Linked DNA regions of Homo sapiens: regions 2, 3, 4 and 5 are each linked to region 1. The links come from fine-mapping of genetic effects on gene expression. A gene starts in region 1. Each other region holds a variant in brackets. All regions are shown on one strand. Distances are between the middles of the regions. Region 1 holds the start of TBC1D30 (TBC1 domain family member 30). Region 2 overlaps RASSF3 (Ras association domain family member 3). Region 3 overlaps TBC1D30 (TBC1 domain family member 30). Region 4 has its middle 6.2 kb from the start of GNS. Region 5 has its middle 26 kb from the start of GNS.

The links. PIP is the estimated chance that this variant, and not a neighbour inherited with it, causes the effect.
Region 2: its variant is the best candidate, but not a certain one, in a credible set for the expression of TBC1D30 in whole blood (TOPMed, PIP 0.85).
Region 3: its variant is the best candidate, but not a certain one, in a credible set for the expression of TBC1D30 in spleen (GTEx, PIP 0.56).
Region 4: its variant is the best candidate, but not a certain one, in a credible set for the expression of TBC1D30 in whole blood (TOPMed, PIP 0.59).
Region 5: its variant is the best candidate, but not a certain one, in a credible set for the expression of TBC1D30 in lung (TOPMed, PIP 0.62).

The regions. Positions count from the first base shown.
Region 1 is chr12:64,822,436-64,826,555 of GRCh38, reverse strand. It overlaps TBC1D30 (TBC1 domain family member 30), which reads right to left and starts at 1,909. Exons shown (of 12, transcript NM_015279.2): 1 at 1,523-1,909. The coding sequence starts at 1,676. RefSeq lists an enhancer at 704-1,211 and a silencer at 1,850-2,089.
Region 2 is chr12:64,690,152-64,694,271 of GRCh38, reverse strand. It overlaps RASSF3 (Ras association domain family member 3), which reads right to left. Exons shown (of 5, transcript NM_178169.4): 4 at 2,693-2,802. Among named protein-coding and RNA genes, the nearest start is that of GNS, 67 kb to the left of the region's middle. RefSeq lists a silencer at 1-83. The variant T/C (reference allele first, on the strand shown) is at 1,892.
Region 3 is chr12:64,874,239-64,878,358 of GRCh38, reverse strand. TBC1D30 (TBC1 domain family member 30) reads right to left here. Exons shown (of 12, transcript NM_015279.2): 12 at 1-3,358. The coding sequence ends at 2,571. Among named protein-coding and RNA genes, the nearest start is that of LINC02389, 7.5 kb to the left of the region's middle. The variant T/C (reference allele first, on the strand shown) is at 1,923.
Region 4 is chr12:64,763,580-64,767,699 of GRCh38, reverse strand. It overlaps a transcript of TBC1D30 not described here. Among named protein-coding and RNA genes, the nearest start is that of GNS, 6.2 kb to the right of the region's middle. The variant ATTTT/T (reference allele first, on the strand shown) is at 1,683.
Region 5 is chr12:64,783,679-64,787,798 of GRCh38, reverse strand. It overlaps a transcript of TBC1D30 not described here. Among named protein-coding and RNA genes, the nearest start is that of GNS, 26 kb to the right of the region's middle. The variant T/C (reference allele first, on the strand shown) is at 2,511.

The DNA of each region.
Region 1 (4,120 bases):
CTTTAAGGCACGCTGAAAACAAGTGAGGTTGCTGTCCGGACGCGAGGTGCTGAATGGAGGAGCGTATAATCATGACGTTTGCTTGATAACAAAGACCAGGAAATTCGGTCCCGCGCTGACTTATTCTTGCCACACTACAAGGATTCCCTGTATGTCTGACCAATATGCTCTTCTGACTTTTCCGGGGCACCTGCTGGGCATCATGCCGATTGCCTTCTCATAGTGAAACCCAGCAGGGGTTAGTTGGCCAAAACCACAACTATCCTCTCATGATCAAAAATGAGCAAGAGGATTTAACTGAAATTGATTCGCCGCCTGCATGCAAAAGCTTAAACCAGGTCACTTTCACCCCACTTTTCTTTTCTTCTAACAGAATACGGGCAGAGAGAAGGTTTATGTTTCATCTGATAATCACAGCTATTCCGGATTCAGAAATACAAAACACTTACTTTTAACGTGGGAAGGAGATTTAAAAGAAAAAAAAAAGAGGTAAAGGAAGATGGTGAATAAATACTACAGCCTCTGCAACTAGACACTTCCTAGGGGAGAACAACAAAGAAACCACGAGGTTGGGAAAGGCAGTGCCGCATCCCACCCTTTGGGACTCTGCAGCTCGATTCTCCTGCGGCTCTACAGCAGGTCCCCAAGGCGCTGGCGCTGGGGGGCGGGGGCCGGGGACCGTGAACCCGCCTGGAACGCAGCCGGTGCCACTCCAGGGAACAGGTGAGCGCCAAGCACCAGTGAGAGTACAGCCAACTCCCTCTGCAGCCACTCCTTGCCAGAAACCTCCGTGCCCAGGAGCCCGCGCTAGGGCCAGGCTCTTAAAATCCCGGGGAGGGATGCCGGGTGATGGAGCCGACACGGAGTTATGCAGTCTGGAGAAGCAGGGATGGGTAAACACAGGCTGACAGTGGGAAGGGCCTTGCCTAGCACGACCAGGCTCGTTCCTGGACCTCACCTATGAAAAGGATCTCCTGCTGCTCCCCACTCGCACTCACAAATTACAGGCTCCAGTTCGAGCTGACCCCGGCACTCACGCTGAAGGGACTCTTGGGAAAATAACACCCGATTTTGCCTTTGCAGCCACTGTCTTCCTCCTCCGACCTGCAGTGTCAAACCTGTGCCACTCTCCGCCCCCACACACCTCTCGCAAGGTCTGGCTTCCTGCGAGCCTGGAACACAATAGGTGGTGCGGCCTCTGAGGGCCCGGGCAGCCACCCGCACTTCCCCGCCACGCGGAGAAAGCCGAGCACACAGGCCGCAGGGTGGGGGTCCGCGGGGAGAGGGTGGAAGCAGCGGGTTCTCCGCGCCTGGGGTGGCCGCTGCCCCACCCAGGCCCCCGTCTGCCCTCTACCCTTCCAGACCAATCGCTCCCTGCAGGTGCCAACGCGGTGCCCCGCACCAGGTGGCACGCGGACTTTCCCCAGAGCTCCCCGGCCTAGACGGAGTCAGGCTAAGGCAGAAGCGCGGGCAGCCCCGGCGCTACTTTACAGCGCCCCATCTGCAGCCCTGGGGTCCTCACCCGGCTCCAGGGTGCACAGCAGCCGGGGCGCGGTCCGGGAAATGCAGCTGCGCTTCTTGAGCACATTGCTCAGGATGGTGCCCACGCCGCCGCCCTGCCGCTTCAGGCATCTCCCCCCGCGCCTCAGAGACCCGGTCAGCTTGTCCTGCCGCATCCGAGAGCGCCCCGGGCTCTGGCACGGCTACCGTCCGTCTCGGTCCCCGCTACCCCACTCGCTGAGCGGCTGAGCTCGCGGAGCTGGGTGAGTGTCTGCGGCTGACCGGCCCGTGGGAGCAGGGAGCGCACAGCCGGCTGGTGCTGGAGGGTCACGGGGACTTACGGGGCACCGCGGGAGCCGCCGAGCGCAGGGAAGCCAGCAGGCATCTGCAGTGCGGAGCCTGCAAGGCTGAGGCAGGAGATCGCTCGAGGCGGGGAGGGCGGGAGCGAGCGAGCGAGCGAGCGCGTGGGAGACGGAGGCGGCGTGCCCGCCCCCAATCCCGGCACCGCCGTGCGCAGGCGGGGCCGCCCCAGCTCCCCCGTGCCCAGAAGCGCCAGAGACAGGGAGCCAGTGGGCGCGTAACTGCGTTCGGGGACCAAAAGCAGAAACAGAGATGTCCGTGCTTCTCCCAAGATCTGGGAGGGAACAGAGGGAGCACCAAGGGGCGCCAGTCTCAGGGGCAGAACACCCGTAAGGGCAAGCATCCTCTCCCACTTCCGAGCAGTCTCAGAAGGGGCCATGACCCAACCGCAGGCGGCGAGGCACACGCTTCAGCCCGAATTGCGTTGAATTATTTCCTGGCAGATTAGAGAGGCGCGGAGAAAATGAAGGAAAAAAAAATTATTGTTTCTTTTAGAAAAATGGGCTTCCAGAAAAAAAGTGTTCTCTTTTCAAGCAGTATTAAAAAGTAATGTTCCTCATCTCTCCAGCCAGACTTCAGTAGTTCTGAACTATTGCCCATCATTATGGTTTAAAAAAAAAAAAGTCATTCTCAAACGGCAATATTCACCAATAGACTATTTACCATTAAAATGGATGAAAGAAAGGGTGTGGGGGGGGGATATAAAGATACTTGTGTTTGCTAATATTTATAAAAAGAAACACTAAATGGATAAACCAAAAACAAATTAGAAAACTTGTATAGGAGAAGGAACATCGTGGAGGAGACAAGAATGGAAAACTGAGTCCTCTCTTGATGTGCCTCCTGTAGTTTTGGCTCTGGAATAACACTATATTAATAATATTAACAAATTAAATTTTTAAAAAACCAGGATGATGGAACAGCATGCCTATAGTCCCAGCTACTTGGCAGGCTGAGGTGGGAAAATTGCTTAGCCCCAAGAGTTTGAGGCCAGCTTGGGCAACATAGCGAGACCCCATCTCTTAAAAAGACATAAAAATAAAAATAAAATTTGAAAATACATAAAATAGTCTGGGCACGGTGGCTCACACCTGTATTCCTAGCACTTTGGGAAGTCAAGGCAGGAGGATGTCTTGAAACTAGGAGTTCAAAGCTGCAGTGAGCTATGATTGCACCCCTGCATTCTAGCCTGAGCAACAGACCTAGTCCCTGACTATAAATGAATAAATTATTTTTAAATTGTAAAAGAAAACCCTAACAATTGAAAATTAATGGAAACAAATCAACCTAATGGACTATCCCACTTATAGCATAAGAACACAGAAAAAAATAATTCTCTCTTAAGTTGACATAGAACACAATATTATGACTGTACATCAACAGTTGTACATATTCCCAGAGCAAATAAAACTGCAAAGAAACCTTACATTTCATTCAGTAGTATTATTGTTATTAATAATATTCATATTTCTTAAATTCTTATATCCACTACAGGATAAAGCAAATAAATAAGTATGCTAACATCAAATGGAGCCAAGATGTTTTCAGTGTAATAGAAAATATGTGTATAACCAAAGTAATTAAGTTTTCTTTAAAATATTACAATTATATATTTATATGGGAAACACTAGTATGAACTCATTTTTTTTTCTTTTCAAAAAAATACATACATTCATTGAATAGGTTTAGAAGTAAGGACAACTCAGCAGCAATGAACACCCACAGCACCCAGGTTATGGTCTCTAAAAACCATTCCCCACTCAAAGGAACTAAGGCTCCTTTGAGGAGTGACTGATTCCAGGTTTGGGACAGAAAAAGTACAAGATGACCCTGAAACATTTTGATGAGCTCAAAAAGAAAGGAAATGTTTCACAATTAATGGGGTCAAGTCAAAAAGACACAAGAGTCACATAAATAGGCTCCTTCCTATTGGCCAAAGATGAAACAATTTGAACTTGAAAAACAATGGCTGAGCCTGGACAACATGGCAAACCCCCATCTCTACAAAAAAAAAAAAAAAGCTACAAAAATTAGCTGGGCATGATGGCACACACCTGTAGGCCCAGCTACTCAGGAGGCTGAGGTGGGAGGATCACCTGAGGCCAGGGAGGTCAAGGCTGCAATGAGCCATTATCGCACCACTGTACTCCAGCCTGGGTGATGGTGAGACCCTGCCTCAGAAGTAAAAACAAAAACAAAAAGCAATTAATTGCTGGGTCAGGTGCTGTGGCTCAGGTCTGTAATCCCAGTGCTTTGGGAG
Region 2 (4,120 bases), 130 kb after region 1:
TCCTACCTGGCCTCCTCACTCGGCTCTTATGCTCCCCCATCTGTTCCCCAAACAGAACATCCTTTGTAAAATGCTCATCTGGCCAAGACTCTCCCCTGCTTAGAACCATCCAATGGCTTCCCTTAGTTGCTGATGCTGTCTGAAAGACTCTAAACTCTCCGGCCCCATCTCTCTCTCACCGAGCTTCACTCTCTGCCCAAGTGGCACGCATTCTCCCCTCCTCCACTTTGCCTGGCTATGAACTACTCATCCTCCCCATCTCAGCTTAAATGCCACTTTCTCTAAGCAGCTTTCCACAACTTCCTCTCCTCTCTTCCCACCCAAGGCTAAGTGTATCAAAAGCCTTCACAGAGCCCCTGATCACAACCAAGATTTTTAAATTACAATTATTTGCTTAATATCTATCTCACCTGCACCTTACCTACACCACAGCTGCCGTACTTCTCGCTATTTGGAGTTTATCTCTTGCCTTGAGGCTCTGAGCCTTGTTTCCCTAACAGCTCCTAGTACTTATTTAGCAGGCACAAAATAAGTTTTTAGGCTGGGCATTGTGGCTCATGCCTATAATCCTAGCACTTTGGAATGCTTAGGCAGGAGGATCATTTGAGCCCAGAAGTTCAAGACCAGAAGTTCGAGACCAGCCTGGGCAAAATAGTGACACCAGGTCGCTACAAAAAATTTAAAAATTATCTGGCTGTGGCAGTACATTCCTGTAGTCCCAGTTACTTGGGAGGCTGAGGTAGGAGGATTGCTTGAGCCCGGGAGATTGAGGCTGCAGTGAGCCATGATTGCGCCACTGTACTCCAGCCTGGGTGACAGTGCAAGACCTAGTCTCTTTAAAAAGAAAAAAAAAAAAATTAAAACAGATTTTAAAAAATAGAAGCAGTGAATGTCAAGGAGGGTATCTAGCATCATCTACGAGGTTTTTTCCAAACACATCCTCCTCTCCCAAAGGGGGCCCTGGATCCTGGTGGAGAACTGCTGTCTGATGGTGTAGAGAAAAGATTCAAGATAACCAAATACAAACAAAGAGTGAAAAATAAGTAAATCCACCAAATGGGCTCAGTGGTAGAAGAATTCCTGGAGAACAGTTTAGGCTGGTTATTTAAAAAAAAAAAAAAAAAAAAGAGCAACATGGAGTAGGAGAGCAAAACTTCTACGTTAGAATATTCTGTTAATTTTTAAAATTTTAACAGATTATCTTTCACCTATGTTGAAGTCTCCAAAATAAAGACATCATATAAATATCCCTCCCACCCCCTAACAGCTATGGAAATTTCTTCCTCAGTTCAGTTTTCCTTAAATAACTGAGAAATAAGAACACCATACAGAGGTCCAGTACAGCAGTCTGGAACAATAAAACCCAATGTCAAGTCAATTTCAAAACTAAGTTAAGGCCAGGTGCAGTGGCTCATGCCTGTAATCCCAGCACTTTGGGAGGCTGAGGTGGGAGGATTGCTTGAGCCCAGGAGTTTGAGACCAGCTTGGGCAACGTAGTGAGACCCTATCTCTAATTATAATTAAAATACAATAAAATAACCAAGTTAATAAAATTCTTGCCCAATGTAGTTCTAGTTGCTACTTAAAACACTAAGTACAAGAAAAATAAAACACTGAGTAGACTATGCTAATGTGTCTGGCTTAAGCTGGCAGAGGGAATGGTCACCATCTGCAAAGCCAAGTCAGATTTCTGCACCCTGCCTTCTCCCCAAAATGAGTCTGAATGTCTTGAAAAGCTTCAAAACACCAGAATCAAAAGAAACTTCAAAAACATGTAAAACCACTGTCTTCCTAAAACTCCCTTCACTTACATGTATACATTTCTAATTGTGACTCAAAGCCCACCTTGTAAAGTGTTTAGTCCCACTTAACAGATTTTAAAACTGAGGGC[T/C]AAAAGATTAGAAGACTTATCCAAGGTCATGCTACTAATCTAACAAACAGTAGGAAACAGAGCCGTTTCCTAACTTTTAACCTAGAAACCCTATTCTCAATTGCACCATGTAGGACATTTCACACCATTTCCTGTTCCAGACAGAAGACTGGGACAGGAGCTTGGGATTTGCTCAAGTGTCATTTAAAGCTGACACTTGATCTAGAGGGCAGGCTCAAGTGCTTTTTTTCTTCTACTGAACTGGCTAAATACAATCCTCCCTGGAGACAACATGGCAAATGATGCACATGGAAACATAATTTCTTAATCAGTTGACTGGGCAAGGGGGAAAAAAAAGATGCTAGAAAGCTAAATGCCTTCCATGGTAAAGAGATCGAATTTCCTTTTATATCCCTTTAGAAGGGAATTAGCCTGGAGACTTTTGTTAGTAGCAAACACATGGTGAGTGTCAACTTTCAAAGTTCAGCTGGACTGGAGTATTTTGGAGGTGGGAAGGGGTGAAAATGACTCTCTGGATGGAGATCAAGTAAAAAAACTTTATTTTCTCCCACCTCTGAAAATGACAGACTAATAATATAAGGTTGTGAGAGAATGACATCATAGGCTAACTTTGGGTTCATTTCTGACAATTCAAAATCCCTCTCCCTCTCCCTGCCCTCCAACTCTCTTCTCTTCCCATCCCCCTGCCCTCCAACTCTCTTCTCTTCCCATCCCCCATCAATAGCCAAGTCACTAGGCTACTGCAATAAAATAGGGCCAGCTGTTCTGTATAGTTTAAAGCAATAGTGAACAATAACTTACCTCTCCAATTTCATGTTCACGAAGAACAAAACTAAGTGTGTCTGTTCTGGGCCCTGCTACCAAACGCAGGTAGAGTGGATGTTCCCGGTCTGAGAGCTTGCAGGCGTAGACTGGGTAAAGAAACAAGCAGCATGTTACAGAGTATTCAGCCATTCCTGAGACCACTTCCCCATTGTGATCCCCTCCTCCAGATCAAGGTAACCATCCAAGTTACCCCAGCCTCTAAGTCGCCAGTCGGCTCATCTTATTATTTAATACCAGTAGCCCACAGTGGAATAAAATCTATTCTGTTTCTGTTCAAATATAAACTGTGCCTTGATTAAGAAGGAAATTATTTTCAAGAATAAATTTTAATAGATATTAGTCCCAAAATATGCTTATAGTTAGCTCTGCTCTTCCTTTTAGAAAACAAGGTAAGAGCCAGGCATGGTGGCTCATGCCTGTAATCCCAATACTTTGGGAGGCCGAGGTGGGCGGGTCACCTGAGGCCAGCAGTTTGAGACCAGCCTGGCCAACATGGCAAAACCCTGTCTCTACTAAAAATACAAAAAATCAGCCGGGCGTGGTGGCGGGCACCTGTAATCCCAGCTACTTGGGAGGCCGAGGCAGGAGAATCACTCAAACCTGGGAGGTGGAGGTTGGAGTGAGCCGAGATCGTGCCATTGCGCTCCTGCCTGGGCAACAAGAGTGAAACTCTGTCTCAAAAAATAAATAAAATTTTTTTTAAATGAAAAAAAAAAGGCAAGATAAGAAACCTAAAAAAGGGTCCACTACTCCTTTAAAAACAATAAAAATAGGCCAGGCATAGTGGCTCGCACCTGTAATCCCAACACTTAAAGGCTGAGGCAGGAGGATCACTTGAGGCCTGGAGTTCGAGACCAGCCAGGGCAACATAGCAGGACCCTGGTCTCCAAAAAAAAAAAATTTTTTTTTCTAACTAGCCAGGCATAATGGGGCCCGCCTATAGTCCTAGCTACTTAGGAGGCTGAGGCAAGAGCATCACTTGAGCCCAGGAGTTCAAGGTTACAATGAGCTATGATCATGCCATGGTACTCCAGCCTAGGTGACAGAGTAAGACGCTGTCTCAAAAACCAAGGCCAGGCGTGGTGGCTCATACCTGTAATCCCAGCACTTTGGGAGGCCGAGACAGGCAGATTGCCTGGGGTCAGGAGTTTGAGACCAGCCTGGCCACCAACATGGTGAAACTCTGTCTCTACTAAAAATACAAAAGTTAGCTGGGCATGGTGGTGGGCACTTGTAATTGTAGCTACTTGGGAGGCTGAGGCAGGAGAATCACTGGAACCCAGGAGGCGGAGGTTGCAGTGAGCCGAGATTGTGCCACTGCACACCAGCCTGGGCAACAGAGCAAGACTCCGTCTCAAACAAACAAACAAAAAACAAATTTAAAAAAAAATGTATATACCATCC
Region 3 (4,120 bases), 52 kb before region 1:
AGTGTCCAATACATAGGGAAGATAGCAAGTCCATACTGGTCTTTGTACATGCTGTGTGGTAGAGGCTACTGCAGGTTTCTTTATTTTCTAAAGTAGGCAAGGCTCATAAATTGACCAATTCACATTGTGATTACTTGGTACAATGCATGCATGTTATTGGTACACAGAGTGCTTTAATAGGAATCTGTTGGATTTTCAAAATTCTGACAAGGCCATTTTTACCTCAGAGGACTATTATCCTTTCACTTATTCATTCATTCAACAGATACGTATCCCAAACTGTGTGTTACCTCATCCATCCCCTTCTCAGGAAGACCAACCCTGGAAATAGGTGAGAGGAGAGTGTTCACAGGGCACAGCATGTGTTGTTGATACTAAGTTTGTGGACAGCAATGGTACAATCCCAAGGACTTGTATAAGTGGCCTCTACCTCATTAACCATTTCCTTGAACCCAGACCATCAGGGAGCTAGTGAGCTGATTCAAGAGAGGAAAGAACAATTCTCCATTCAAGTCAGACATCCCTCAAGGGGAACATGACTATTCTGACTCATTTGAGAAGGGGCAAAGAAAAGGATATGAGGTGGAAACACTATTATCTGTAAAGTTTAGCTGATGGAAGAAAATGGTGTCATTTGCTTAACTTTGGAAAATGCAGTGGGTCTCTGGGCCCTGAGGGTGGTATGCAAAATAAGCCCATCTCTCCACCTACAGCCTTCCCAAAAAACAGGCTGTAGGCGTGGCTGCTTTTTAAGAAGCTGGATGCTAACTTCAGATGGCACAGAATTCAAGACCAAAACTGCAATAACTTATTAGTCATATTTTCCATCTTCAGTTCCTTTGGGGGTAAAAATACCACGAAGAAGATAAAATGGCTTTTCTCACGGTATAGGTCATTGTTGTGTTTTCTGTTCAAAAAAAGCCCACACAACCACATTCTCTATTATAAAAAGTAGTACCTCTCATAGTAAAAGCCTGCTCTACAGTTACAGTTTTCGTTTCAGAATTAACAATCCATTAGCTCAAATTAATATTGGCTGCATCAACAATATTCCTGCAAGTATCGCCAATCGTCTTCCAGAGACAAACATGAAGGCTGAGTCTATTCCTCTAATGATGGCGAGGAGAAGGGGATTGAGGAGTGAGCCTTCTGTTCAGCCAAATAACAGGTGCATGAAGCATTTTTAAAATAAACTCCCTGTTCAGGATAAGGAAGTCAGAGCTGGTTTTGTAAAATGCCATCAAGGGACTCTGTACCATCTGGAGACAGGTCCTTTGAGTCAGGAGGGATTTTAGTGAATGGCTTCCCAGTCTTGGTTTTTACACGCTATGTAGCCAATACATCTGTGTACAAAGAGCATTAAACCCACCTATTGCACTGAAGGAAATGTGGCTAAGTCACTTGGAATACCGAGAGTACTGACCTTGAGTAACTGAAGTGCTACTTCACCTCTGTGTGGCTCAGAGTTCCCATCTGCATAGTGGAGACAAGAGGTGCTATCCCTGACCCGCTGGGTGAGAGAGAGCTAGAAAGGGCAGGAGTGAGAGGGAGCTAGAAAGCACTGGGGCCTTCTCCAGAGAAAGGCAGTGTTCAATTAACAAAGTACTCAACAAAGGACTCCAATCAAAAAGCACAAAATTCAAGTAACAGAGTCACAGGTGCTGTGTTCTGGCTTCTGAGCAGAGGCCTTGTGCGTCTGCAGTCTAGAGCTGGTGGGTGAGTGAGCTGTGTGGTGGGGGATGCAGGCCAGGCTCCGCATGGAGCCCATCAAGTCATCCGTACCACTGAGGATCAAAGCTCTCCTTGAGAGGCGAACACAAACCTCAGGAAAAGCTCAGTGGCGCGAGCAAGCTGTCCGGAGCAACTGCGTAAAGCATATGCCAAGTGTGTCCTGTGCATAAGATCTTCAGCTGGGTTATCGA[T/C]TGAAATTTCAACAGATGAAAGGTTTTCTTCATTTTGCAGGTAGAAATAGACAGTTAAAGAAAGGCTATCTAGATTTTTCTCCTATGATTTAGCATAAGAATAAAAAAAAAATTTGAAACTGGTACTGTGGGAAATCTCACACGACACAATCCCCTCCGTAAAGCATGAAAAGGAAAATCAGGAAGTTTTTTGTAACGAAGAAACTTACTTTCTTTTTACAGTTTCTGTCCTAGCAAGCTGGTATGTGCATGCTTGAGTATTAGTAACACCCAGAGAACTGGAAGGTTTGGGGGTGCTGTCACAGGGACTCTGAAGGCCCCCAGAACAGAAGGATGGACGAGAGTTAACAATCTAGATATAGTCTTTTTTAAACAGCTCACAATGAAAAATTGGGAAAACTTCACACTATAAAACCACAATATTTATTTTGCCACAAGAATCCACTTCGTCAGTTAGCAAGTAGCTGGGAAAACAGCCCTGTTCTAACTCCTATTATAAAACTTCCAGTTCCCATTTTTTATGGGCTGTTGCTCATCCCTGAACCTATTCATTTTCACTGGACAAATAAAACTCTTTTAGAGCCATTCAGCTGCAACCCTTATACTACTGTGAAAAGGTGAGTCCAGATACAAAGTTTCGGGGAGACATCATCGTTTTTTAGTGCCACTGTTTCCACCGCCGGGTTTGCTGAAGCTCCTACTCATTTGAGGAAAGTGCACAGTTGGGGTTCTTTCTGTAGGGCCATATAATCCCAAGTTCCTGGCAGTAGCAGATTTCCGCAGGGGCTTGACGCTGGGAAAAGGGCTAAAGATGGGGGTTTTTGAGTTGCTGCCTTGGGGAGCTTTGCTGGTGGCTTTGTTTTCTTCGGGTGCACTCGGCGGCTCTGGGCAGTGCCGCTGGCAGGGTGGGTGCACCCTGAGCTCAGTTTCAGCTGCAGCATCCCTCTGGTTCAGTTCCAGGGCTCCCAACTTCGCCTGAACTGCAGACACATCCACATCAGCATCTCCGAACACCGGCTCCGGAGACTGCCCCTCGATCGTCCTCCTGGTACTGCCTTCAGGGCTGCTGCCTTCTCTCCCAGCTGTCGCTGTACAACCAGAGGGGAATGCCTCTGCTGCCCCCAGCCCATTGGTCTTGCTGGCCTCGTTCTGCTCATCTATCAGCCCTACGGTGTCCCCACAGCCCGGATGACTCTTGGTCCTTGGCATGTTCTTTTTGTGGACTCGGATGTGAGTTCGCCACGGGGAGTTGAGCTTCGTCTTAAGGTCTTCGTAGGGGACAGGAGATATTTTCCCTCCTGTGTGACCAGGGATGTGGATGACAGCATTCTTGGCAGCTCTGTTAGTCATTTTCATCTTCTTTCCTAAAAGAAGGTGGTTTATAACTGGAGAACTGTTTACCTGAGACGGGAGAATGCTGGTCACTGGCCCTTTGTCTGAAAGAAATGTTGAAAGGTAGTATGAAGTGTACCACAAAGAAACACATCCATCTTGGAACAGAAATCACTTAGAGGTCCTCCCAGCCCCGTCTACCACATCCCTTCCCATGTGTTCCCCAGGGAGGGGCAGAGTCATGTGACTGAAGACAGCAGAAACTGAATTCAACCGAAGAGCCTGGAATACCAATGCGCTCTTCTTTAAAGAGGAAGGGACCACAGGGTGATGATACAAAAAGGAACATCTGACCCCTCATTCCTAATCAGAGCCTGGACTCCCTAATTTTTTTTTTTACAGAGAGCTCTTGGCTCTGAGTAGCAACCTCTGAGTTACTGTACTTAGAAAAATCTTTGCAGATTTAAAAAAAATAATACAACAAACACTATGACCATATGGATTATCATCTGTCAGCCTCTGAGAGGTAGGAAAAGAACACACTGCATATTATGAAGTGAGATCCAGCAGAATGACAGAAGTGATAAAAAGGTAGTGAGAATGCAGTGAAATCACAGCTATCCAGCATCTAGCCCTACAGGTGAAAAACCACTCCTGTGTCCTCAATGGACTTCGAAAGCCAATTGAAAACTGAAAAGCACCAAAAGCTTTGTCCTCAGCTAGGTGCCGTGGTTCATGCCTGTAATTCCAGCATTTTGGGAGGCCAAGGCAGGAGGATCACTTGAGGCCAGGAGTTCGAGACCAGCCTGGCCAACATGGTGAAACCCTGTCTCTACTAAAAATACAAAAATTAGCCAGGTGTGATG
Region 4 (4,120 bases), 59 kb after region 1:
GATGGGTAAGATGTTCTGCAGGATACCTGGGCAGTCTGGATTTGTCAGGGCTGTATTATAACACATAGTCACATAGTTACATATTGTGACACAGAGATGAGTTAACATAACCTTGGGGCAAAACTGTAGATGTCTTTTGTTGTTCATTCTGTATGAATGTGAAGTGTTTCTGAGCCTCTTTTCTGATAGGGACAGAAGAGAATGCATTCACCAAATCGGTGGCTGCTTAAAATTTACCTGTAGTCATATTGATTTTGTCTAGCAAAGGTATCAAATCCAGCATGGCCACAGCGTCAGGACTAATACTTGGTTGAGCTTGTGGTAGGCTATGATCATTTCCCATGATCCTTTCTGCAGGGGCCAGACTGGCTACTTAAATGGAGATATGGGATATCTCTGATAGGGACCACCAAGATTTGACAATTTTGTTAATCTTTCCAAAGAATCAGCTTTTGCTTTCATTGATTTTTCTCTATTTTTTTCTATCCTCGTTTCATTAATTTCTGCTCTAATTTTTATTATTTCCTTCCTTCTGCTTGCTTTAGGTTTATTTTGCTTTCTTTGGTGTCTTAAGGTAGAAGGTTAAATTAATGATATGAGATCATTCTTTTTTTAAATATAGGCATTTACAGCCACAAATTACTCTTCAAGCTCTATGTTAGTTGTATCCCAAGTTTTAGTATGCTGTGTATTCATATTCATTCATCTCAAAGTATTTTCTAATTTCCCTTTTGATTTCTGTTTTAATCCACTGATTATTTAGGAGTATGTTGTTTCATTTCCAAATATTTGTGAGCTACCCAAATTTCTCTGGGAATCTTATGTTCTAATTTTATTTCACTGTGGTGAGAGAACATACTTGTATTATTTCTACCCTTTTAGATTTATCGAGGTTTGTTTTATGGCCTAGTACATGGTCTATCCTGGAGAATATTCCACAGGCACTTGAGAAGAGTATAGATTCTGCTCTTGTTGGGTGGAGAGTTCTGTAGATCTCTGTTAGGTCTACCTATTTTATAATGTTATTCAAGTCTTCTATGTCCTTGTTCATCTTCTGCCTAGCTACTCTATCCATTATTGAAAGTGGAGTATTGAAGTTTCCAACTATTATCGAGTTGTCCATTTTTTCCTTTATTTCTATCAGTTTTTACTTCAAGAATTTTGGTACTTTGTTAGGTCCATATATATTTATAATTGTTATATCTTCCTGATGGATTGAACCTTTTATCATTATAAAATGCCCTGTTTTTATCTCTAATAATATTTTTGTCATAAAGTCTACTTTTCTTTATTACTAGTTTCCAGAATTTTGATTGTGATGTTTCTCAGTATGATTTTCTTTATGTTTTTTCTGCATGGGGTTCACTGAATTTCTTGAATCTGAGATCAGAGTTTTCTCTATATGCAGACAGCAACTATTATTTCTTCGAAAAATTATTTCTTCCTTCTGGAATTCCAGTTATGTAAATAGTAGACCCCATGATTTTGTTTCACAGGTCACAAGGGCCCTGCTCATTTTTATTTTCGTTTTTTTCTCTCTTTGCTTTATTTTGGGTATTTTTCTCTTGCTATACCTTCAAGTTGACTTATCTCCCCCCCATATTGTTTAATCATCTCTTAATCCATGTAGTGAATTTTCAGATATAGTGCTATTCAGTTATAGATTCTATTTGTATTTATTT[ATTTT/T]TGAGACAGGGTATCCCTCTGTCACCCAGGCTGGAATGCAGTGGCACAATCATGGCTCACTGCAGCCTGGACCTCCCCGGCTCAAGTGATCCTCCCATCTCAGCCTCCTGAGTAGCTGGGACTACAGGAGCATACCACCAAGCCCAGCTAATTTTGTGTATTGTATTTTTTTTTTTTTTTTGTAGAGGTGGGGTTTTGTCAAGTCGCCCAGGCTGGTCTCAAACTCCTGGGCTCAAGCCATCTGCCCACCTAGGCCTCCCAAAGTGCTGGGATTACAAGTGTGTGCCACTGTGCCTGGCCCAGTTATATATCTTCCACCTCTCTTCTCAGTTGGCTCATGTTTTCCTTTAAATACTTGAACAAGTTATAATAGGAGTTTTAACACATTAATCTATTAACTTCTTCATCCCTGTCATTTATTATCTGTTTCTATTGACAATTTTTTCTTCTGGTCATGGGGTCACATTTTCCTGTTTGGGAGCCTATATAGTAATTTTTTTTTTTTTTTTTTTTTTTTTTTTTTGGAGACAGTCTTGCTCTGTCGCCCAGGCTACTGGAGTGTAGTGGCGCAATCTCGGCTCACTTCAACCTCCACCTCCCGGGTTCACGCCATTCTCCTGCCTAATCCTCCTGAGTAGCTGGGACTACAGGCACCCGCCACCATGCCCAGCTAATTTTTTGTATTTTTTAGTAGAGATGGGGTTTCACTGTGTTAGCCAGGATGGTCTTGATCTCCTGACCTCATGATCCGCCTCGGCCTCCCAAAGTGCTGGGATTACAGGCGTGAGCCACGATGCCCGGCCCTGTGTAGTAATTTTCTTATTCAACGCAGGACATTGTGAATTTCATATTGTTGAATATCTAGGTTTCGTAGTCTTCCCTGAAAGAGTGTTGAGCCTTATTCTGGAAAGCAAGTTACTTTCCTTGCAGATTAGTTTGATCTTTTGAGGGCTGTACCCAAGCTTTGTTTCTGTGGGTGCACAGTACTTTTTACTCATGATAGTTTAGCTCCACTATTAGGGCACGACCTTTCCAGGTTCCTAAGGAGTGCTCCTGATGATCAAGGAGGACTTTCCCCTATGGCTGGCTGGATCTCAAACATCCCAACCCCTCTGAGAATTATTTGTTTTACATTACCTTGGTCATTCTTTGCCTTGCCTTCTGGTGGTGTTTCACCCTGTGAATGCACATCTCAGTGTTCAGCAAAGTTTCAGAAAGACATCTGTACAAACTTATGGAGCTTTTAAATCTATACAGCACCCTTCTCTTTGGAATTCTTCCCTGCAAACTTCCAGCTGCCTCAATCTCCCTCAACTTTGATCTCTGTCCACCCAAAGTTAGCAAGTCAACTTTGTCAAGCATGAGATCCTATTTCCTGCTCTCTGGTTCAGAATGTCCCTCCACCAGGCAAAAAGTTGGAGCAATTGTTTGTTTCTCTTTACATGTGGATCACAGTCCTTCACTATTGTCACTTGTATAAAGGCATCTATATTGCCCTGTTTTCTAGTTGTTTTTAGCAAGAGAATTAGTCTGGCACTGTTACTCCATCGTGGCCAGAGATGGAAGTTTTGAGGTTATTAAACGTTAAGTGAAAGTTACACTTCAGAGGTCATGATGAAAAGTACTATTGTTCCTATAATGAAAATTCCACAGGAATTTTTCAACTAATAGCTGAATTGGATGCATTTTTGCTTAAGCTCTTGGAAAAACATGTCAAAATGAAAACACAACTTATTTTACTAAAACAATTTATGGAAAAAATTGAAATAATGAAAAAAATGTTTAAAAAGTGGTAAGTCAAACACATAACCAAACACCAAATACTATTATGTATTCTATTCTGGATATGACAACCACTGATGAGTTGGCAATTATTGGGCACTACTTTCTAACAGGAAAACCTATGAGCAATTTTTAAATATTTTTAGCCAACTGAAAACATCTGAGACATTATTCAACAAAGTAAAACAAGATTGTTATTTTAACCTGTGGTTAAACAGCATTTATAATCAGTCATCTGTTAACACAGCTATTATAATGATTAGGAAAAAGGGCTGCATGCTCTTTAAAAAACAGCTTGGCTAGGCTGGGCATGGTGGCTCACGCCTGTAATCCCAGCACCTTGGGAGGCCAAGGTGGGTGGATCACCTGAGGTCAGGAGTTCAAGACCAGCCTGAGGTCAGGAGTTCGAGACCAGACCAATATGGTGAAACACTGTCTCTACTAAAAATACAAAAATTAGCTGGATGTGGTGGTGTACACCTGTAATCCCAGCTACTTGGGAGGCTGAGGCAGGAGAATCGCTTGAACCTGAGAGGTGGAGGTTGTAGTGAGCCGAGATCATGCCACTGCACTCTAGCCTGGTGACAGAGCAAGACTCTGTCTCAAAAAAAAAAAAAAAAATTAATAGGATACAAAACCAAAGTGATAAAGA
Region 5 (4,120 bases), 39 kb after region 1:
CTCCCAAAGTGCTGGGATTATAGGCGTGAGCCGCCATGCCCGGCCTGCAGCAATCTGTTAATATCTATTAGGTAAAACCTTCTTTAATAAACAGCATAAATAATACTTTAGGGATAACAAACAGCAATATAATAGAAGAGAAGCAAGAAAATACAGGATTTTCTTTTAATAATAAACATAAGAATGAAATTTAAGCGATTAATTTCATTACCAGAAACTAATCAAACCCCAAAAATTGTTTCATGAAAGCAAACACATCTTAATTTGCAATTTTGAAAAAAAAGCACTCTAGGAGGTGTCAATTTACGTACAAAATGTGACAGAGTGAAAGAGCAACAAAAGGCAACTTCCACAATCGCCTGAAAAGCTGTCACAGGCATTTTATCAAAAACATCATTGTACCTATATTTACCATACCTGAGCATACTGTTCTGCCATGCTGCATGTTAATAAAGAATGCAAAACAAAAATAGTTAAATGTTAGCAGAATAAAACATAAGGCTATTGCATGGAGAATTTTAAAATTAATTCACAAGGTTTTATACCTAGTATTTAATGTGTATCAGCAATTTAACAATTTATTTTTAATTGATTAACAAACCACACAGCTCCCACACAGCTCTTAGTTATGATTATGCAAGAGATAGGTTACATTTGCTAAACTATGTTGCCATCTTCAGATTTCAGAGCAAGTTGTTAAGGTCCTGTTACAAGAATCGATTTCTTTAAATCAATTATTTAATTCACTTACTGTAGCAACACAGAATAAGAGAAAAAGGACATGCCTTTTAGGTTATGTCTGTGTGATGCTGTTTTATTTATTTATTTTTATTTTTATTTATTTATTTTTTTTTTGAGATGGAGTTTCGCTCTTGTCGCCCAGGCTGGAGTGCAATGGTGCGATCTCGGTTCACTGCAACCTCTGCCTCCCAGGTTCAAGTGATTCTCCTGCCTCAACCTCCTGAGTAGCTGGGACTACAGGTGCCAGCCACCACGACCAGCTAATTTTTAGTAGAGATGGGGTTTCACCATGTTGGCCAGGCTGGTCTCAAACACCTGACCTCAGGTGATCCACCAGCCTCGGCCTCCAAAAGTGCTGGGATTATAGGTGTGAGCCACCACACCCAGCCAGTGATGCTGTTTTAAAAATAAAAATTTGTCCAGGCGCAGGGGCTCACGCCTGTAATCCCAGCACTTTGGGAGGCCAAGAAGGGTGAATCACCTGAGATCAGGAGTTTGAGATCAGCCTGACCAGCCTGACCAGCAAGGTGAAACCTCGTCTCTACTAAAAATACAAAAATTAGCCAGGCCTGGTGGCGGGCGCCTGTAGTTCCAGCTACTCAGGAGGCTTAGACAGGAGAATTGCCTGAACCTGGGAGGCGGAGGTTGTATTCAGCCAAGATTACGCCACTGCACTCCAGCCTGGGTGACGGAGTGAGACTCTGTTTCAAATAAATAAATAAATAAATAAAATAAAATTGTAATCATCATTCAGCATTAGGTAAAATTATTGTCAAAGTAAAGTACTACTTCAAATCTAGAATAATAAATCTAAGGTTGTAACATTAGACATGAAGTATACATTTTAACTGAAAAATAGGAAACTGTCTGAGTTGTTCCTTGTTCTTAGTTCTGAGGGTATAAGCTTGCATTTAAAACTTCTCAATATATTCACAAACACAGACTGTTGGCTCAGCTTTCCTAACATTCTAGTTGCATGTGGCAAAAGAAGTAACCCAATTCCAGTACTTACTTCTCTTCTGTGACACAGCCTGCAAGCAGGCAGTCACAATATCACAGTTCCTCTGCACTTTATGCAGAAGCCTATCTTTCTGCTTCAGATGCCGAAGTAACTTGGCCGACTGGATGCCAATTCTGTACTTTAGCTCTCGAAGGATCGTCTTCAGTTCATTAGCGTCTATCAGTAAAGAAAAATAAGAATAACGATTAATACCTTGAGAGGAATACAAATTCCAGTGTGATATTAGTCCAAAGATAAATAGAACATCCATTTAAACCAACTAATTCTAGGTTTTCACTCAAGATTACATGTATGCATTCAGCTCGGACATTCCGATCAAATAAGTCACTCATTTATCTGCCCTGTCCATGAGACAGATACTGTAAGGTAAATTTATCCTTAAGCCTATCTGTAACATGGAGCAAAAACTCCTACTTTTACCATATCTAGCTCTGGCTGCAAATTTACTTTTCATTGCCTGAAAACTGGCATGTATATTTTGTACCACTGAAGTGTTCAGATGGTAAGCTTGCTAGAAAAGAATCTTTTTTAGTCTGTTACATTAATAATAAACCTAACAGCTAATTAAAAAAAAAAAAAAGTCTTTAAAGGCCAGGCGTGGTGGCTCACACCTGTAATCCCAGCACTTTGGGAGGCCAAGGAGGGCAGATTACCTGAGGTCAGGAGTTGGAGACCAGCCTGACCAACATGGAGAAACCCCATCTCTACTAAAAATACAAAATTAACTGGGAGTGGTGGCACATGCCTG[T/C]AATCCCAGCTACTCCAGAAGCTGAGGCAGAATTGCTTGAACCCGAGAGGAGGAGGCTGCAGTGAGCCAAGATCGCGCCATTGCACTCCAGCCTGGGCAACAAGAGCGAAACTCCGTCTCAAAGAAAAAAAAAAAAAAAAAGTCTTTAAAGTACTCATCTATGTTTACAAATGATGAGCTAAAAGTAAATAATTTTACCACATTTTGTAATGTAGATGAATGTGGCAATACTGATTTTGTTTTGAATATCCAGTCTTCCAATAGCCTAAAAACATTTTGTCTTAGAGGTACAATATTTCATCTTAGAGCCTCAGCAATTTTTCAAATATGGTAGAAAATAAATTTCCTTTACACAGATAAATTACAATAATTCTACATTCATAAAACTAATATTCACAACAGCAGTTTTTTTTTTTTTACTTTATTTTACTTTAAGTTCCAGGATACATGTGCAGAGTATGCAGGTTTGTTACAGGTATACATGTGCCATGGTGGTTTGCTGCACCCATCAACCCATCACCTAGGTTTTAAGCCCCACATGCATTAGGTATTTGTTCTAATGCTCTCCCTCCCCTTAACAGCAGTTTTTCTATAGGTCAAAACAAATTTGGGAACCAGAATTGTCTACTGTCTTTATATAAATGATCATTACGATTTGGGAGGAGGTTTTTTTTGGTCACATTTGATATGATTAGTCACTAGAGCATGATCTAGTAGGCAGGCAAAGCCTTCCACTCAACTTAACCTTAGCTAGCCCCCCATTAGAGGTTCTCTGTGGGGTTTGGATCTACTCATTTTTAAAGGGATATGGAGAAACTAAAGAGAATCAGAAGAGAAGAAAATAAATGCTCAAAAGTAGAAATGCACTCTAGAGATCAAAGTCAACTTTTGGGGTCTGTAACAAACAAATGCAGGGTTCTCAAACCTGACCTCACCATGGAAAATGCATTTGGCCCTGAGTTAAAAAGGACTGCTTTTGGATCAGCCAACTCTCTGAGTGATTTTTAGGCAAGGAAGTGTGCTCCAAGTCTCAAATTATGCCTAGCATACAGGATTATGCTGAGAAACAAATGGGTATGGTCTTTATAAACACTAACATAAATAACGCTTTAAGTAAAAATAAGGAATTACCATGAAGAAGAGGGCAAAGGCTAGTTCTTCCTGTCCCCCTAATTTTAAACATAGTAGGATATAATGAAAAGAGAACATTTAAGTTAAATGAAAATATGATTAAATATGAGAAAAAGCCTACAAGAGGCAACCAGAGGCTCTTCATTCCTAGATGCCTTCAGATAGAACAAACATCTTTCTCTGAATATTTCAATATTTTGGGCTGGGCACGGTGGCTCACACCTGTAATCCCAGCACTTCAGGGGGCCGAGGCAGGCAGATCACCTGAGGTCAGGAGTTTGAGACCAGCCTGACCAACATGGTGAAACCAAAGAACCAAATCAACATTTTCCTTCTAGAAATAAAAGGGGTAGGAATATAATCACAAAACATTTAAATTATACTTTTCCTCCACAAAAGGGTTCTTACATTATCTCATTTCCAGTGATCCCTAAGGTGCCTACAACTCCAGTTCTCTGAATTACATTTATTGTTCAATA